Regions from separate parts of the Homo sapiens genome. Here region 1 is linked to region 2. Evidence: fine-mapped expression QTL. Tissue or cell type: blood mononuclear cells. Region 2 holds a variant in brackets; the other region holds the start of a gene. All regions are shown on one strand. Distances are from middle to middle.

What was found. PIP is the estimated chance that this variant, and not a neighbour inherited with it, causes the effect.
Region 1: RPP40 starts here. The variant in region 2 is fine-mapped to the expression of RPP40 in blood mononuclear cells (TOPMed, PIP 0.99).

The regions. Positions count from the first base shown.
Region 1 is chr6:5,000,913-5,009,091 of GRCh38, forward strand. It overlaps RPP40 (ribonuclease P/MRP subunit p40), which reads right to left and starts at 3,125. Exons shown (of 8, transcript NM_006638.4): 1 at 2,968-3,125; 2 at 1,189-1,333. The coding sequence starts at 3,090. LYRM4-AS1 (LYRM4 antisense RNA 1) reads left to right here and starts at 2,904. Exons shown (of 4, transcript NR_126015.1): 1 at 2,904-3,047. RefSeq lists silencers at 2,726-2,975, 3,106-3,235, 6,649-6,849.
Region 2 is chr6:5,039,199-5,047,377 of GRCh38, forward strand. The region is part of intron 2 of LYRM4-AS1 (LYRM4 antisense RNA 1); the gene reads left to right. It also overlaps a transcript of LYRM4 not described here. Among named protein-coding and RNA genes, the nearest start is that of RPP40, 39 kb to the left of the region's middle. RefSeq lists an enhancer at 5,424-6,623. The variant A/T (reference allele first, on the strand shown) is at 4,396.

The sequences.
Region 1 (8,179 bases), 38 kb before region 2:
TGCAGAAGACCAAGCATGCAGAAGAACAAGCATGCAGAAGACCAAGCATGCAGAAGACCAAGCATGCAGAAGACCAAGCTTGCAGAAGACCAAGCTCCAGCTAGTTCACTCCCTGACCAACAGCCTATTTGTGCAAGTTTACTATCATCAAGCAAAAAACTGACTCAGAACGGAACGTGACCTTTGGGGATGCGCGGAGAGGGGTCCAAAGTAGAATTCTAGATAAACATACACCTCTCAGAGACAGAGTTCCAGGTTAAGATTCAAAAGCTACCCAACCTCTCCAAGCCTCAGTTTCCTCACTGTTAAATGAGGATCATAGGCTTGCTTCATAAAGTTGTTGCAAGGGTTAAATTTGGTAAGACATTTAACAGTGCCTGCTACAGCCATTGTCCACGTAATTCACAGAGTGGTGTCAGGCCTTGAAATAGATGAAAGGAATAACGGTGATGAGACCAGACAAGATGCCCAGCTCATAAGTCGCCCCAGCAGTGTCAGAATGAGAGGAGCTACTGGTAACTAGAGTTCTTCATATCTTCACTGGAGAGGACACACATGGGGGCTACCACAAGATAAGCATGTGGCCACTGTACAGGTGAGTTATGTAGTGTGGGTGGAATCCCTAAAGGCCCTCTGAAATAGTTTCAAACAAATGGCTCCCAGGAATCAACTGAAACAAACCAGTCCAACCCAGCAGATATGGGTGGAAATGGGGTGAGTAGAGGAGGGGTTATGGCTACAAAATCTAAGCAGAAGACACTGGACCCCAACAAGCACTTTGCTCTGTGAACAGTAGCTGTGGCTGTATCGGGAGACCAACCCTCTGAGACAGCTGCTGTGGGACTGCTGACAGCATAGTGTCTTTGCAGCCACATCTTCAACAGCAGTGCATCTGAACACAGACTGCAAGTCTCTCCTCTCCATTAATCCTCATTTTAAGGGGACGGATACTGTCATGTTACAACATCCCCATCCAACACTTGTGGCCAATTGCAATCAGAAACCACCACCTAAAGAGGGTACAAGAAAGAACAGGATGAGAATGCGGGGGAGAACGCGTGTGCACCTGACCACACAGACTATACCACAGGCCCTGTTTGAAACAAAACAACAGCCCTAGCATCGTGATGTGGTCTCCCTACCCTTCCTCATCCAGCCTTGTTCACAGCCATTTCAGGTTTTTCTTACCTTTCTTTATAAAGGTACTGATGAATTCAGGTGTAATTAATTCATGAAGAGGTAAATTCTTCACAAAGTAATAGGGTCCAGTGTTCATGACCAGGTTTTTCAGTTCTTCCGATAGTATCCCACATTCAGGAATGAGAAATGAAACCTATTGGAATGTGTAATACAAACAAGGTCTTACTTCCATGAAGATGAACACCCAGGTTTTTAGGAATGAAACAAAATCATGAAAGTTGTTATTTCTCCACGAGTTTCACTGGAACATAAAAACACGGGCAACAAAACTCTTATGTTAACTTACCTATCTCAGGCAAAGAGAAATCTGACTACTTAAGTTTTTCATTTCTGCATTCAAACGTACAGTACAGGAAGGGGATTGAACAGAATACTTTTAATGGAAAACTCGTGCTTGCATTTAATCTTTTGCAAATTAGCAATGCTGTATATTTTATGTCCTGTTCCTTTCACTATTTTATTTTCAAGGAAATATAGTATAATTGAATATCCCTTGATTTGTTTACCCTGGTGTTATCCTGGAATGAAACAAACTATCTGTCGGGGCATAAGGAATTAATTTATGGACATCCAATTACTAAGAATCTATGTGCAAGCAATGGTGCTCCTGTATGTTTTCATTTTCGAGACAGAAAAATGCAACAGGCGAGTTAAAGTATACATCCCTGACTGCTGTGATGAGCTTGACATCCAAAATAGGTGTTAAAAACAGGGCAGGCTTCAAATGTTGCCACATTGTAAAAGTCATCACTGTCCCAAGGCTCAAACACCAGCCTGTTCTGACTGATCAGGTCACCACTTAACATCTCTGAAACACTGCTCAGTCAAACCTGAGTTATTAAGCTGATCCATTTAAAGTGTAAAATGTTTAATCCCCCATGATAAGGTTAGTTTCTTGAAGTCTCTCAGATATCAAATTAGTTCCAACAACCAATTTAGAAAATCAGTCGCTTCGGCCGGGCGCGGTGGCTCACGCCTGTAATCCCAGCACTTTGGGAGGCCGAGACGGGCGGATCACGAGGTCAGGAGATCGAGACCATCCTGGCTAACACGGTGAAACCTCGTCTCTACTAAAAATACAAAAATTAGCCGGGCGTGGTGGCGCGCGCCTGTAGACCCAGCTACACGGGAGGCTGAGGCAGGAGAATGGCGTGAACCCGGGAGGCGGAGCCTGCAGTGAGCCGAGATCGCGCCACTGCACTCCAGCCTGGGCGACAGAGCGAAACTCCGTCTAAAAAAAAAAAAAAAAAAAAAAGGAAAATCAGTCGCTTCCTGGGCCGAGCCTAGGCAGGATGCTCTGGTGAGATCCACAGGTACGCAGGTGGGAGAGGGATTCAAGCTGGGGAGGAGGCAGTGGTGGGGAGGAGGCGCGAGACCCGCCCTGATTTGGGGAAAAAGCGAGGTGCACGTGGCTGCCCCACAGCCTAACTCCCTGGTCCCGGCCCTGAACCTCGAATCCCTCCCTGGACTCACTCCCAGTTCGGCGGGTTGACACGAGTGAGCAGCCAGAACGCCCCTGACAACAGCTCCCTCCAGACTGGGTACCGCCCCCACGCCCGGCGCATCCTGGGAGTTGTAGTCCTGTAGCCCTGCAAGCCACTGGCTTAGAGCAGTTAAGAGACTACAACTCCCAGCAAGCCGGGCGAGGGCCCCGCCCCTCCGCGTACCGCCGGCGGCCCCGCCCCGCGAAGCCTAGCACTCTCCCCAAACCTCTCTCGCACGCGGGGACTGAGCACGGCCCGAAAAGCCGAGGACAGCCGGACTCACCCTGTAGTTATAGTAGTGCGTCTGCACAAGATGCCGGTGGCGCGACTTGTGGTTGCCGAAGTTGGATTTCTCGCAAACCAGTAAGTGCCGCGGCGCCTCCCGAAGCCGGCGCAGCGTGGCCATGCTCTCCTGGGTTCCTGGTCCTCCCGGCCTCCGCTGGCGGGGCACGCCCCGCCCCTTCCTCCCGCCCCGCCCCTTCCCTCCGGCCGCATACCCGCTGCTGTGCGCCCCTGGCGGCGGTGGAGTGGGGATGGCGGCGCTGGATTTCTGAGCAGTTCTTAGACTTCTTAGGAGCCCACGCAGCCGCTCTTTGGTGGATGTCTGAAGCTGTAAATTCACTGTCCCAGTGGCTGGGAACCTGGCTCTTGCCTTTTCAACGCCACTTTTCCTCCGTCCCCGCCATCCCTTGGAATTGCCCTAAACCCTCTCTGTGGGCCCCGCCTCGGAGCGCCCCTTGGACCCCAGCCTGGCGCCGGCGCATACCTCGGTCAGGCCCCTCAGAGGGACCGCTTCCTGCCACCGTTATAAAAGGAAAACATCGCATGGAAAGGCCCAGTTCCTTTAGTATATGGTCAAGAAATGTAGCCGCACAGTTAAGTAACCCCCTAAGCTGCTTTGGGGGCCACACCCAGCTGCTTTCTGACTTCTCACACTGTTTGGTTCACAGGACTCTGTTACCCATTGGGGACCTCTTGGCCATTATTAACACAGGCCAACAGGACTAAAAGTTTGTATCAGTCCTTCCCAAAACATTAGGGAAGGTTGTGCGGGAAGGTAAAGCACAATTTTTGCCTTACAATAGGACTCCTTTGAAACTACTATTGAGTTCCCTTTTAAATAGCCCTTCAGAACCGCTTTTAATAATGTGTTGTTTCTGGGGGTTAATAGTGATAATTCTCCTAAGTCATTTTTCCATTTCGTTTTTCTGTCACGGGCTTGGAGCGGTTAAGAGACTGCGGCTCCCAGCATGCGGTACGTTACTGATCAGGGCAAAATCAAGTATGTTACTACATGCTTCTCAAACTAGAGAGGCACAGCCCCAATTCTGCACTGGCAGGATACAAAACAGCAGAATATTGGTGATACATCTTCCTGGAACATCAGTTTTTCTATGAGATGTGGAAGAAATGGAATTAAGTAGTTTACAAGGTAAATAATTAAGAATTTAAAACTAAGCCAGTCACAGTGGGTCATGCCTGTAATCCCAGCACTTTGGGAGGCTGAGGTGGGAGGATCACTTGAGCTTAGGAGTTCAAGACCAGCCTGGGCAATATAGTGAGACCCCATCTCCAAAAATAAAAATAAAACTAAGACAAGGCTGGAAAGTCATCTGCCATTATAAACATCAGTAATCTGGCCGAGCACAGTGGCTCACGCCTGTAGTCCCAGCACTTTGGGAGGCTGAGGTGGGAGGATCACTTGAACTCAGAAGTTCACGACCACCCTGGACAATATAGTAAGACCCCATCTCAAAAAAAAAAATTAAAACTAAGACAAGGCCGGAAAGTCATCTGCCACTAAAAACATCGGTAATCTGGCTGAGTGCTGTGGCTCACGCCTGTAGTCCCAGCAATTTGGGAGGCCGAGGCGAGCAGATCGCCTGAGGTCAGGAGTTCAAGACCACCCTGGCCAACATGGTGAAACGCTTTCTACTAAAAATACAAAAATTAACAGGGTGTGGTGGCGCATGCCTGTAATCCCAGCTACTCAAGAGGCTGAGGCAGAAGAATCACTCGAACCTGGGAGGCAGAGGTTGCAGTGAGTCAAGATCTCGCCACTGCACTTCTAGGCTGGGCGACAGAGTGAGACTCTGTCTCAAAAAAAAAAAAAAAGTCAAAATGTAATCTATGACTGAAATGTCACATTTTCTTTCCAAGGAAAAACCTAATGAGAACCTGTTTCCCATTATTTTAAACAGCAGAATTATAAGGCGTGGCAAGTTAATTAAAAAAAACCCTACTAATTTCCTAGATCACAATATGGCAGCTAGATGTTTTATAAATAACAGCTACTAATAACATGTTAAGATGTAAAAGGCTTAAAGCATTGCTTCTTGGTCACCTCATATTTAATGTAATTGTCACCAGACAGTTGCTTTGTGTGTGGTAGCAGTGGCCCAAGACTGAAACATCACGGATGTACCTCTCCTTTGTCGACATTCCAAAACTCCACAAAGTGACTGGTGTGATCCTGATGGTCTACCAATTGTATTTGGAAGCACCGTGAAGCTTTTCCAGCAAACCATTTAGTTTAAAATGTTGCATATTTTGAAGATGCAAAATAAATTCTATCTATGTAAATATCAGCTGAAAAATGTATTGAGAGATATAAACTGCCCTCTTCTCAAGAGAGACCCCACAGAGTCTTGCAGCTTTAAGTCCTCCTCTCTGGCTGCTGATAACCCCTAGATGTGGCGCCTCTTCCCTGAGCGGAGTATCCAGATGACTCTAGTACAAGGACTCACCCCTGACTTCTTCCCTTCTCACCCGCCATGCAATCCCACAGTAAGTCTTGTGGCCCTGCCTGCAGCACGCATCCTGATTGCAGCCTCTTCTTGCTCTCTGCGTTTCTACAGCCAGTTTCAGCCACCTTCGTCACTTACTGGCCTGCTGCCCAAGACTGCCTCCAAACCTTCTCCTTGCTGCCTCTCTTGCCCTCCCACAGTCCATTCTCCACTCAGCATCCAGAGTGATCTCTTAAAAACATGAAAAACATAATATACCCCCACAGCCCCATTTAGACCCTACCACTGGCTTCTCACTGTGATGGAATAAAAGCTTACACATTGGCCTGAGCCTGCCTCTTCAGCCTCATCTCCTTCCCTTGCTTATTCACACTCTGTCTGTCAGATTTTCTGGTCTCTAGAGCTGAAAGCAGTCTTAACTGACAAACAGATATTAGATCATAGAATCTAGAGCACAGGGTATGGAAGGAAAAGTGCAAGATGGAAAAGCCAGAAATGGTTAAAAAAAAAAAAAAGCACATGAAACAAAACATATCTATATGTATACCCAAAATAGTAACATAATTTTGAAAAATCTGAGCTAATAGACTTGCAAAGAAATAGAAATATCTTTGATCATATTCTGAAAACAAAAAAATATAGACTTAGTAAATATAAAAGGACAAAAATTTTACACATCCCATTTCCGGGCCATAATGCAATAAAGTTAGAAAGAACAGAAACAGAATTGGCCGGGTGCTGTGGCTCATGCCTGTAATCCCAGCACTTTGGGAAGCCAAAGCGGGTGGATCACGAGGTCAAGAGATCGAGACCATCCTGGCCAACATGGTGAAACCCTGTCTCTACTAAAAATACAAAAACTAGCTGGGTGTGGTGGCATGCGCCTGTAGTCCCAGCTACTTGGGAGGCTGAGGCAGGAGAATCACTTGAACCCGGGAGGTGGAGGTTACAGTGAGCCAAGATCTTGCCACTGCACTCCAGCCTGGCAACAGAGTGAGACTCTGTCTCAAAAAAACAAACAAAAACAACAACAAAAAAAAAAAACAGAGAAAGAAACAATTTAAAGATGCTCAACTCTTTGACAATGTTAAAATATTCTTTTAAATAAATTAATGCCTGGGTCAGGGTGCAAATCCAAAACACAATGACAGTGTCCATAAACTTCTGTGCTTGTAAATGTATCATAACCATATACAGGCCGTATTGGTGAAAGGAGACAGCTGTCTGACTCAGAAACACAGGGAGTGATCAGGTTATGTTCATTAGGATCCTAGCACTGCCCTGGAGTTGTTTAACATCATCTCTTTACAGTTAGGAGCAGACTGCAGGGAAATGTATCTATTGCAGACAACTGTGCTAAATCAGAGGCCGCCCTCCTGCTGAACCTGAACTTGACCTCACAGTTCCTGTCAGCACAGGGTTCTAGGCAGCTGCTACAAATCAACTGGTGTTGGCTTACAGATTGAAACTGCCCTCAGACAGCAGAGTGGAAACTGGCACCAATGGCTGCAATGGAGAAAATTAATGGCCTGTGGGCCACACACGGTGGCTCATGCCTGTAGTCCCAGCACTTTGGGAGGCCAAAGCGGGTGGATCACTTGAGGTCAGGAGTTCGAGACCAGTCTGGCCAACATGGTGAAACTCTGTCTCTACGAAAAATACAAAAGTTAACCGGGTGTGGTGGCGCATGCCTGTAATCCCAGCTACTCAGGAGGCTGAGGCAGGAGAATTGCTTGAACCCGGGAGGCGGCAGTTGCACTGAGCCGAGATGGTGCCACTGCATTCCAGCCTGGGCAACAGAGTGAGGCTCCATCTCAAAAATAATAATAAAATAATAATAATAATAATAATGGCCCCTGCTATGGTCTGAATGTTTGTGTTCCCCCAAAGCTCATGTATTGAAATGCAATCACCAATGTGATGGTATGAGGAGGTAGGGCATTTGGGAGGTTAGAAATGGGATTCATGCACTTATAAAGGAAGCCTCAGAGAGCTGCCTTTCCCCTCCTTCTATATGAGGACAGAGGGAGAAGATGCCATCTAATGAACAAGAAAGCGGCCCCTCCCCAGACACTGAATCTGCCAGTGCCTTGATCTTGGACTTCCCAGCCTCCACAACTGTGAGAAAGAAAAGTCTGTTGTTTATAAGTTACCCATTTTATGATGTTCCCTTATAGCAGCACAAATGGACTAAGACAGCCCCCAAGAAGAATGTATGACCCACCTAAGAACTAGACAGTGTCATTTTCTCCTGGGCTGCTCTCTCCGTGACTGGAGTGGAGATCAGTGAAGGACACAAACATTAACCATGGCAGCTCCATAGGCCATATCGCTGTACGGAGGTGCACAAATGAAGTCATGCCTTAAAAGCAGAACATGGCCAGGCATGGTGGCTCATGCCTGTAATCCTAACACTTTGGGAGGCTGAGGTGGGAGGATTGCTTGAGCCCAGGAGTTGGAGACCAGCCTGGGCAACATGGTGAGACCTTGTCTCTATAAAAATAAAAATAAATTAGCTGGGCCTGATGGCGCATGCCTGTAGTCCCAGCTACTCAGGAGGCTGAGGTGGCAGGATCACTTGAGTCTGGAACTTTGAAGCTGCAGTGAGCTATGATCACGCCGTTGTACCCCAGCCCAGGTGGCAGAACAAGACCCTGTCTCAAAAAAAAGCAGAACACAAAACAGTCTGTGGTCTGATTAAAGCTTTGTCACACATGCTCATAAAGAAATTTGGAAGAGAATTTGGAA
Region 2 (8,179 bases):
TACCGGAAGCCACCATTACTTAAAAGCTATTAGTATTGTTTTGTCTTAGAATTTCAAAGCAAGGTAATATGTAACATGGCATTTACTCAATTAATATTTATTGAGAACCAACTATATTCCAGGCACTGTTTTAAGTGCTGGGAATACAATAGTGACCAAGACAAACATATTCCTGCTTTCATGAAAGTTAAATAGTATGTGTTCAATCAACCTGTTTCCCCATTTTTTAGAACAATGAAGAGCAGGGAAGGGGTGGAATGAGGGTCAAAAGTAAGTCCTAGAGTCCTGCCCCAAAGTTTTCCAATTACAATCTAAAGTAACAACCTTATGCCACCAAATTCGCAATTTGAACATTGAAAACGGCAATTACCTAACTAAGCAAGCTGTGAGTCCCTGCTTTCTGATATTTTGTAATCCTGCTATCATCTGTGAAACATCATAATTATAATAATAAAAATCGGAAACAGAGAAAGGGAGCATTCTGACATCCAATTAAAAATTAACACTAAATAAGTCAAACTCCCCACAGAGTTTTAGATATGAAAATTGAAAATCTGATCTAAAATTTAAATGAGGTGAAAAGGACCAAGAAAAGCCAAGACATTCTTAAGAAGAAAGAACTAAATAAAAGAAATTCACTTACAGATGTAAAGACTTAATATAAAGCTACAAGAATTAAAGGAGTAATGTTGAAACAAGAATAGAAAATAGACCAATAGAAAAGAACAGAGCCTAAAAACAGACCCACACACGTGTGGACACATATCTGTGACAAAGGAAATACTATAGATTAGTGATTAAAAATATATTTAAGAAATTAATCCTGATAGATCAATTAGATAGCCATATGCAAAAAGAAAATCTTAAAACATATCCTAAACTATCCACAAAAATCAATTTCAGAAGGAATGTAGCTTTAAACAGCCTGGGCAACATAGCGAGACCCCATCTCTACAAAAAATATTAAAAAATTAGCTGAGCATGGTGGCGCACGCCTGTAGTCCCAGCTACTTCGGAGGCTGGGTGGGAGGATTGCTTGAGCTCGAGAGGTTGAGGCGAGCTATGATCATGCCAGTGCACCCCAGCCTGGGTAACAGAGTGAGGCCCTATCTCTAACAATAGATAGATAGATAGATAGATAGATAGATAGATAGATACATACATACATACATACATACATACATACATACATACATAAAGAAATTTCTTTTAAAGAAAGAAGGCTGGGCATGGTGGCTCATGCCTGTAATCTCAGCATTTTGGGAGGCCCAAGTGGGAAGATTGCTTGAGCTCAGGAGTTCAAGACCAGCCTGGGCAACATAGGGAGACCTCATCTCTAAAAGAAAAAAAAAAGAAGAAATAAGATTTAGTGTTCCATAAATGAGTTGAGTGACTATAGAAAACAATAATCTATTGTATATTTCAAAACAGCTTCAACTTCGAGAATAATTTGAATGTTTTCAGCATAAAGAAAAGATAAATGTTTAAGGTGAGGATATCCCAATTACCCTGATTTGATTATTATACATTATATGAATGTACCAAAGTATCACATTACCCCCAAAATATGTACACCTACTACGTATCAGTAAAAACCTGACTATATAAAACCTAATTAATAGAAGGATTATCTTTACTGCTTCTCCATTTGACAATCCAATTTTGTCAAAATTTGGGGAAACAGAAAAAAAAAATGGTGCCTGATGGTGGATTACCGCAACTCTAATCTGTGGTTCCATGCATAAAGAGCCCCATATGCGAGACCAAAATTCAGACTTGACCATGTTCTTTGAATAGCTTCTTAAGAAGTTACAGTTAGCTGGGCATGGTGGTGGCCCGTGCCTGTAGTCCCAGCTAATTGAGAGGCTGAGGCAGGGATTCACTTGAACCCAGGAGGTGGAGGTTGCAGTGAGTGGAGATCACTCCACTGCACTCCAGCCTGGGTGACAGAGTGAGACTCGTCTCAAAAAAAAAAAAGTTACACCTAGGTGTGTATTTTGGCACAAAGGAGTGACAAACTTATAGTTAAAAGCTCAATAACTTCAGTGTGGTGTAAATGTGGTTTATAGGCTATGTTTGTGATTGCTAAAAATAATTCTAGTTTACCTCAAAATCCTTCTGTTTCCCAAAATTAAGTGCCTGGCCAGCTGTCATAAATTACATATTCCGTTTGGTTTTTTGTAAAGGTTACATGTTCAAGACTGTGAAAATAAGATGTTCTCTCTAAAGGCTACTATGCCTGGTCTGTAAATGAACCTGTTAAATGCTGTATTTGCTCCACCAGCTTACTATAGAATGTTACTTAATACAATATCATACTTATTACAGTTTTTACTATAGGAGTGTAATACGTAAAATTAATCTCTATTTTAATGGGCCCATGTTTCGTCTTTCACCATCCTTTAAACTGCTGTGAATTTTTTTGTCATGACTTGAAAGCAAGGATAGAGAAACACTTTAGAGATATCTGGGTTTTTTTCCCATTCCAGAACTTGTGAGTAAAATCATATTTGCTTGATATTTATAGTCATGAACTCCTAAGCTGGCAGCTACAACCAAGAACCAAAATATGGTGCATTCTGCTTCTTGTAATTCATCTCTGCTAATAAACTATAAGAAGCAAGGAAAATTAGGGAAAATATTTTATTTGGATGGTTTCTATAAACAAAGGACTATAATTCTTGTACATTATTTTTCATTTTTGCTGTTTCTTTGAGCAGTCTTATGTGCCACACAATGATTTAAGGTATTTGTTTTCTATAAGAATTGTTTTAAAAGTATTCTTGTTACCAGAGTAGTTGTATTATATTTCAAAATGGAAGATGATTTTTAAAAGCCTGAGTACTGATCTAAGATGCAATTGTATGAACTCTACTCTGGAGGGAGGGGAGGGTGTCCGTGGAAATTTTAAGACTTTTATTTTTGTGTGTCATCAAATATAGGTAAAAATAATTGCGCAATTCTGCTGTTTAAACAGGAACTATTGGCCTCCTTGGCCCTAAATGGAGGGGCTGATATTTCAAGTTGATTATTTTATTGTAAAATAATCCAACCTAATTTTTTTTAATTTGGTTGAATGTTTTTCTTGTTAAATGATGTTTAAAAAAATAAAAACTGGAAGTTCCTGGCAAAAAGAAAAGCCCCATATGCAATATTCAGTATTATTAAAATAATCGGCACCACCCAGTCAATGACTGGTATTTTATTATTACAGATTTGGCTGCTGTGTTCTGTTCATTGCCTCCTTCAACAACCTTTCAGCACAGTTTGCCTTCACCTCTAACGGGTCACAATTTACCTTTTCTAGGCTACCCATGGGGACCTCAACAGCTTTGCCATTGCACACTATCTTTGCAGACAAGATCTTAATCACATCCAACTTTCTGCAGTTGCACAGGGTACCTCAGACCCACATCCCAGATGACATTCCTCAGAAGCTCGCAGCTGGAGATGACATCACCTTAGACAACATCACCCTAGCCCAAGACATCGCTATTAGAGATACATCACCTGGACACTAAAGCCTCCAACCCAGTGACACTCTCAAGGTGCTGACAAAATGGACATGGACATTTGTTGCTTTTCTTCTTTTGAATTAGGAACTCTATTGTGTTTCCTGAATTTACTGTCTGCTTGGCCCATGATCCTGGTATGTTCCTTGCTCTCTGCCAAAACATGCACCGTCCCCTCCACACCTAAAGGAAAACCTGGTAGAAGCTACTACTCTCAATGCCATTCTAAAATTGACGAAGAGTATTATTTTCCCCAAGAGGCAGCTGCTGCAGGCCAGTGAATCCTCTGGACCCTGGGGAGAGGGTCATACACTCCCTAGTGACTTCTACTGTATGCTCCAGCTTTCCACCAGGACCTCCTGCCCTGTCCCCAACTGTAACGACCACAACCACCCCATCCCCTTGGTTACACACAAATATCACCAGTCTTTACATGTACTTTACTGACTTCTCAGATAATACCCTCCAACAAGATAACTGCAGGACTTGCCACCATGACCTGAGAAATACACCAAGATATTATTGTCCAATTTTTTTGAGATATATATATATTTCTCATACTTTTAACATACTCTGCAATCCACCAAGATATTGGTAGAGACCCTGGAAATTTCAAATCTATTTCGTCTGCTAATGCCATGTGAATGGGAAACTTAGATACAGGCTGGCCTACAAGGACTCCTTATACTTCAATTTTTGTTCCTCCTTTCAACTCTCATAAAAAATATTTTCTGTACTATTTAGGGCAAATGATGGCCTTCTTTCTAAGTCTCATCCATCATTGCTGCAAAGGTGCCTTAGTTTGATGTTAAAGTGTCACAGGGCCAATGTATTGACCATGTTTCTGGCGTCTATAAAGTCGATGTTTTAATATCTGTCCTAC[A/T]TGCATACACCAAACATTCCTTGATCTGGAAAACCCAACAGTATGCTTTGCTTCAGCCTCAGGCCTCCCTTGTCGCCTCCTCTGTGCCACCCCCCATTCCTCGGGAGTCCTCCTCCTCCCAGGGGCGCACTTTTCAAATACAAACCAACCAATCCAGAGCCCACACCCCAACCACCTCCTTTATTGGTCTCTCACATGCTGGGCCACTATCCACTTTCCCTAATCACCCAAAGTCAGGTACCAGACAATTAGGGACAGCCCCTATACCCCAGAGCCTGCTGAAATTAGCAAACTGGCCAATCCCGAGTCTGTTTACTTTGCCTTCCTGTTTCTTCCCAAGGAAATCACAAAAAAAGGCTCTTGTCCACAGCCCCCCTCTCGCTCTGCCTCCTGCTTCCCTGTGCGGCCCTGTGGTGTGGTGCACACCTTCCTCTTGGGAACTGTGTGAAACTATCTCCTAATCCTCTCCGTTGGCCTTAGTATACCTCAAATTTTTTGTATTGATACACTTTTTTTTGTGGGGTTTTTTTTGTTTGTTTGTTTTTTGTTTGTGAGACGGAGTTTCACTCTTGTCTCCCAGGCTGGAGTGCAGTGGTACGATCTTGGCTCACTGCAACCTCTGCCTCCTGGGTTCACCTGTGATTCTCCTGCCTCGGCCTCCCGAGTAGCTGGGATTACAGGCGCACACCACCACGCCTGGTTAATTTTTGTGTTTTTAGTAGAGATGGGGTTTCACCATGTTGGCCAGGCTGGTCTCGAACTCCTGACCTCAAGTGATCTGCCCGCCTCGGCCTCCCAAAGTGCTGGGATTACAGGCGGGAGCCACCATGCCCGGCTGACACACTGTTTTCTTTTAAACAGCTGGGAAACCTCTTATCCTCATCACCAGTGCCAGGGTCCAGCTTCAGGAGGGCAGGGCTCACCTGCTTTACTTCCAGATCACCATGTGCAGCGTGGAGCTTCCCTCTGACGTGTTTGTTGGATTTGTTTCAAAAAGGCGGCCATGGTTTCTTTTTTTCCTTCCTCGGCCCTGATTAATTTCAACAGAAGAAAATGTATCCCCTCTAGTTTGTGATGGAATCCAAGCTTAATTAGCCATTCATGGTGCTAAACTGTCCTGCACTGGATGACCCAATCGCTTCTGATTTTCCAAGCTTGGCTCTCAGACCATCCTGGTGGAAGAAACACTAGCAGTCTGCCCAATCTGAATGCAAATCCAGAATAATCTTTTCTTTTGTTGTTACACAGTTATGAGTGCAATTTTTAAATGGCTGCTACTCTACAGCCTGCCTGCCTTATGCTTTCTCCTGGGCACGCAGGAAAGTGAGAGCTTCCACTCCAAAGCAGAGATCCTAGTGACACTAAGTCAGGTAATAATCTCTCCAGCTGGACCTCATGCACTCACATGGACAACACACTTCTCTCCTTCAGTGATCATCATCCTTGTACCATGTTGGTGGCATGCTGTAATCGTGACTCAACATCCGGTTGCCAATTGCTATGTAACAAACCACCTCAACATTCAGTGGCTTGAATTGAAAGCAGGGTCTTGAAGAGATATTTGCACATTTCATCCTCCCAGCAGCATTATTCACAACAGCCAATAGGCAGAAGCAACCCAATGTCCAACCATAGATGAGTGGATAACCAAAATGTAGTCCATCCATACAATGAAATATGATTCAGCCTTAACAAGGAAGGAAGTCCCGCCACGTGCTACAACATGGATGGACCTTGAGGACACTATGCTAAGTGAAGTAAGCCAGGCACAAAAGGACAAATACTCTATGATTCCATTTTATAGGGTACCAAAGAGAATCAAACTCACAGAGATAGAAAGTAGACTGGGGTGGCCAGGGACTCGGGGAGAGAGGAAAGGGCAGTTATTGTTTAAAAGGTACAGAGTTTCAGTTTGGGAAGATGAAAATGTTCTGGAAACGGTTAATGGTGATTTTACATTGTTTATGTTACCACGATTTGTAAAAGAGCAGCTGCGCTGAGAATGAGCATGCTTGTCATTGGCAGCTCTCTGAGATTTTCAGTGCCTCTTACTGGCTTGTTAAGAAGACGGCAGATTCCTCTCCCCGTCTGCTTCTTTCATTATAAAATTCCCATTTCCATTTTGCCTCTAGGTAGAAGCTCACGGAACTCAAATGGGAAATGATGATGGCAGGATTTTCCTGCCGAAAAGAGGTGTCTCAAAAGAAAAACATATTGTATTTAACATGGAGAAATGAAATCCTCCAAAGCGAGCTTTATGAACTGAATTACCCAGAACGGACTTACCTCTATTGTCAGTATTTTTCTGCTGCCCCTTTGGGCTTCTGGTGCCTGGATAACTAAAAGAGCAGGACATCGTGCTGCTTAGTGGGCTTTGCAGTGGGAAGCGGGAACGTCTACCTGCATGAGCACGGGGCACTCTGCCCAGAGCTTGGGCACATTCCCCTAGGCACAGGAGTAAGGAAGAAGTCTCCAGTGTAGGTTAGGAAATAGGCCTTCAGCATGAGCTTACCACAGCTTTTTTAAGGAAAAAATTAGTGGCTTAAAATAATATTCCACTTTTTTTTTTTTGAGATGGAGTCTCACTCCGTTTCCCACGCTGCAGTGCAGTGGTGCAATCTCAGCTCACTGCAAGCTCTGCCTCCTGGGTTCACGCCATTCTCCTGCCTCAGCCTCCCGAGTAGCTGGGACTACAGGTGCCCGCCACCACACCCGGCTAATTTTTTGTATTTTTAGTAGAGACGGGGTTTCACCGTGTTAGCCAGGATGATCTCGATCTCCTGACCTCGTGATCCACCCGCCTCGGCCTCCCAAAGTGCTGGGATTACAGATATTCCACTATTTTTTATCATAATTGTGTGGACTGACTGGATTCAGCTGGGTGATTTGCACTCGGAGTCTCTCGCGTGGCTGCCGTCTTCTGAAGGCTGGACGTCCCACATGGCTTCTTTACTAATACATCTGGTGCTTCAGCTGGGACAGCTGGGACAGCTGGCGGCTGCACAGGCATCTCGCTCTTTGCACACAGGCTCCCCATATGCTTAGTTTGAGCTTGGTGATTTTAAAGTAGTTGAACTTAGATGGCAGCTGGCTTCCCTCAGAGTAAATATGCCAAGATACCCAGGTGGAAGCTGTAAGGTTTCTAATGACCTAGTCTGAGATTTCACACCAAGATGGCTTCCGTCATATTCTGTTGGTCAAAAATAAGCCACACGGTGGGGCATGGTAGCACACACCTGTAACGCCAACACTTTGGGAGGCCAAGAAGGGTGGATCGCTTGAGCCCAGGAGTTCGAGACCAGCCCGGGCAACATGGTGAAACCCCGTCTCTACAAAAGAATACAAAAATTAGCTGGGCATGTTGGCACACCTCTGTGGTCTCAGCTACTTGGGAGGCTGCGGTGGGAGAATCTCCTGAGCCCAGGGAAGTTGAGGTTTCAGTAAGCCATGATCATGCCACTGCACTCCAGTCTGGGTGACAGACTGAGACCCTATCTCAAAAAAAATAAAAGCTACAGGTCAACCCAGATTCAAGGGGATAGGATTACACAAAGTCACAGATTCAGGAAGGTATAATTTATTGGGGAACCGTCTTTGGAGACTAGCTACCACAATCTGTCACCATCTTTTAGATAAGACGATCAACATATTTCTGAGTATACTTTAGATTTCCACTATCAGTGCATTTTCTGAAACTTCCCCAGTCTTAGCACTGAAGGTCCTGCACCCCAGGAAATATCTATCAGTCTTTGTCAAACCAGGATGGTTGGTCACCCTACTTTTA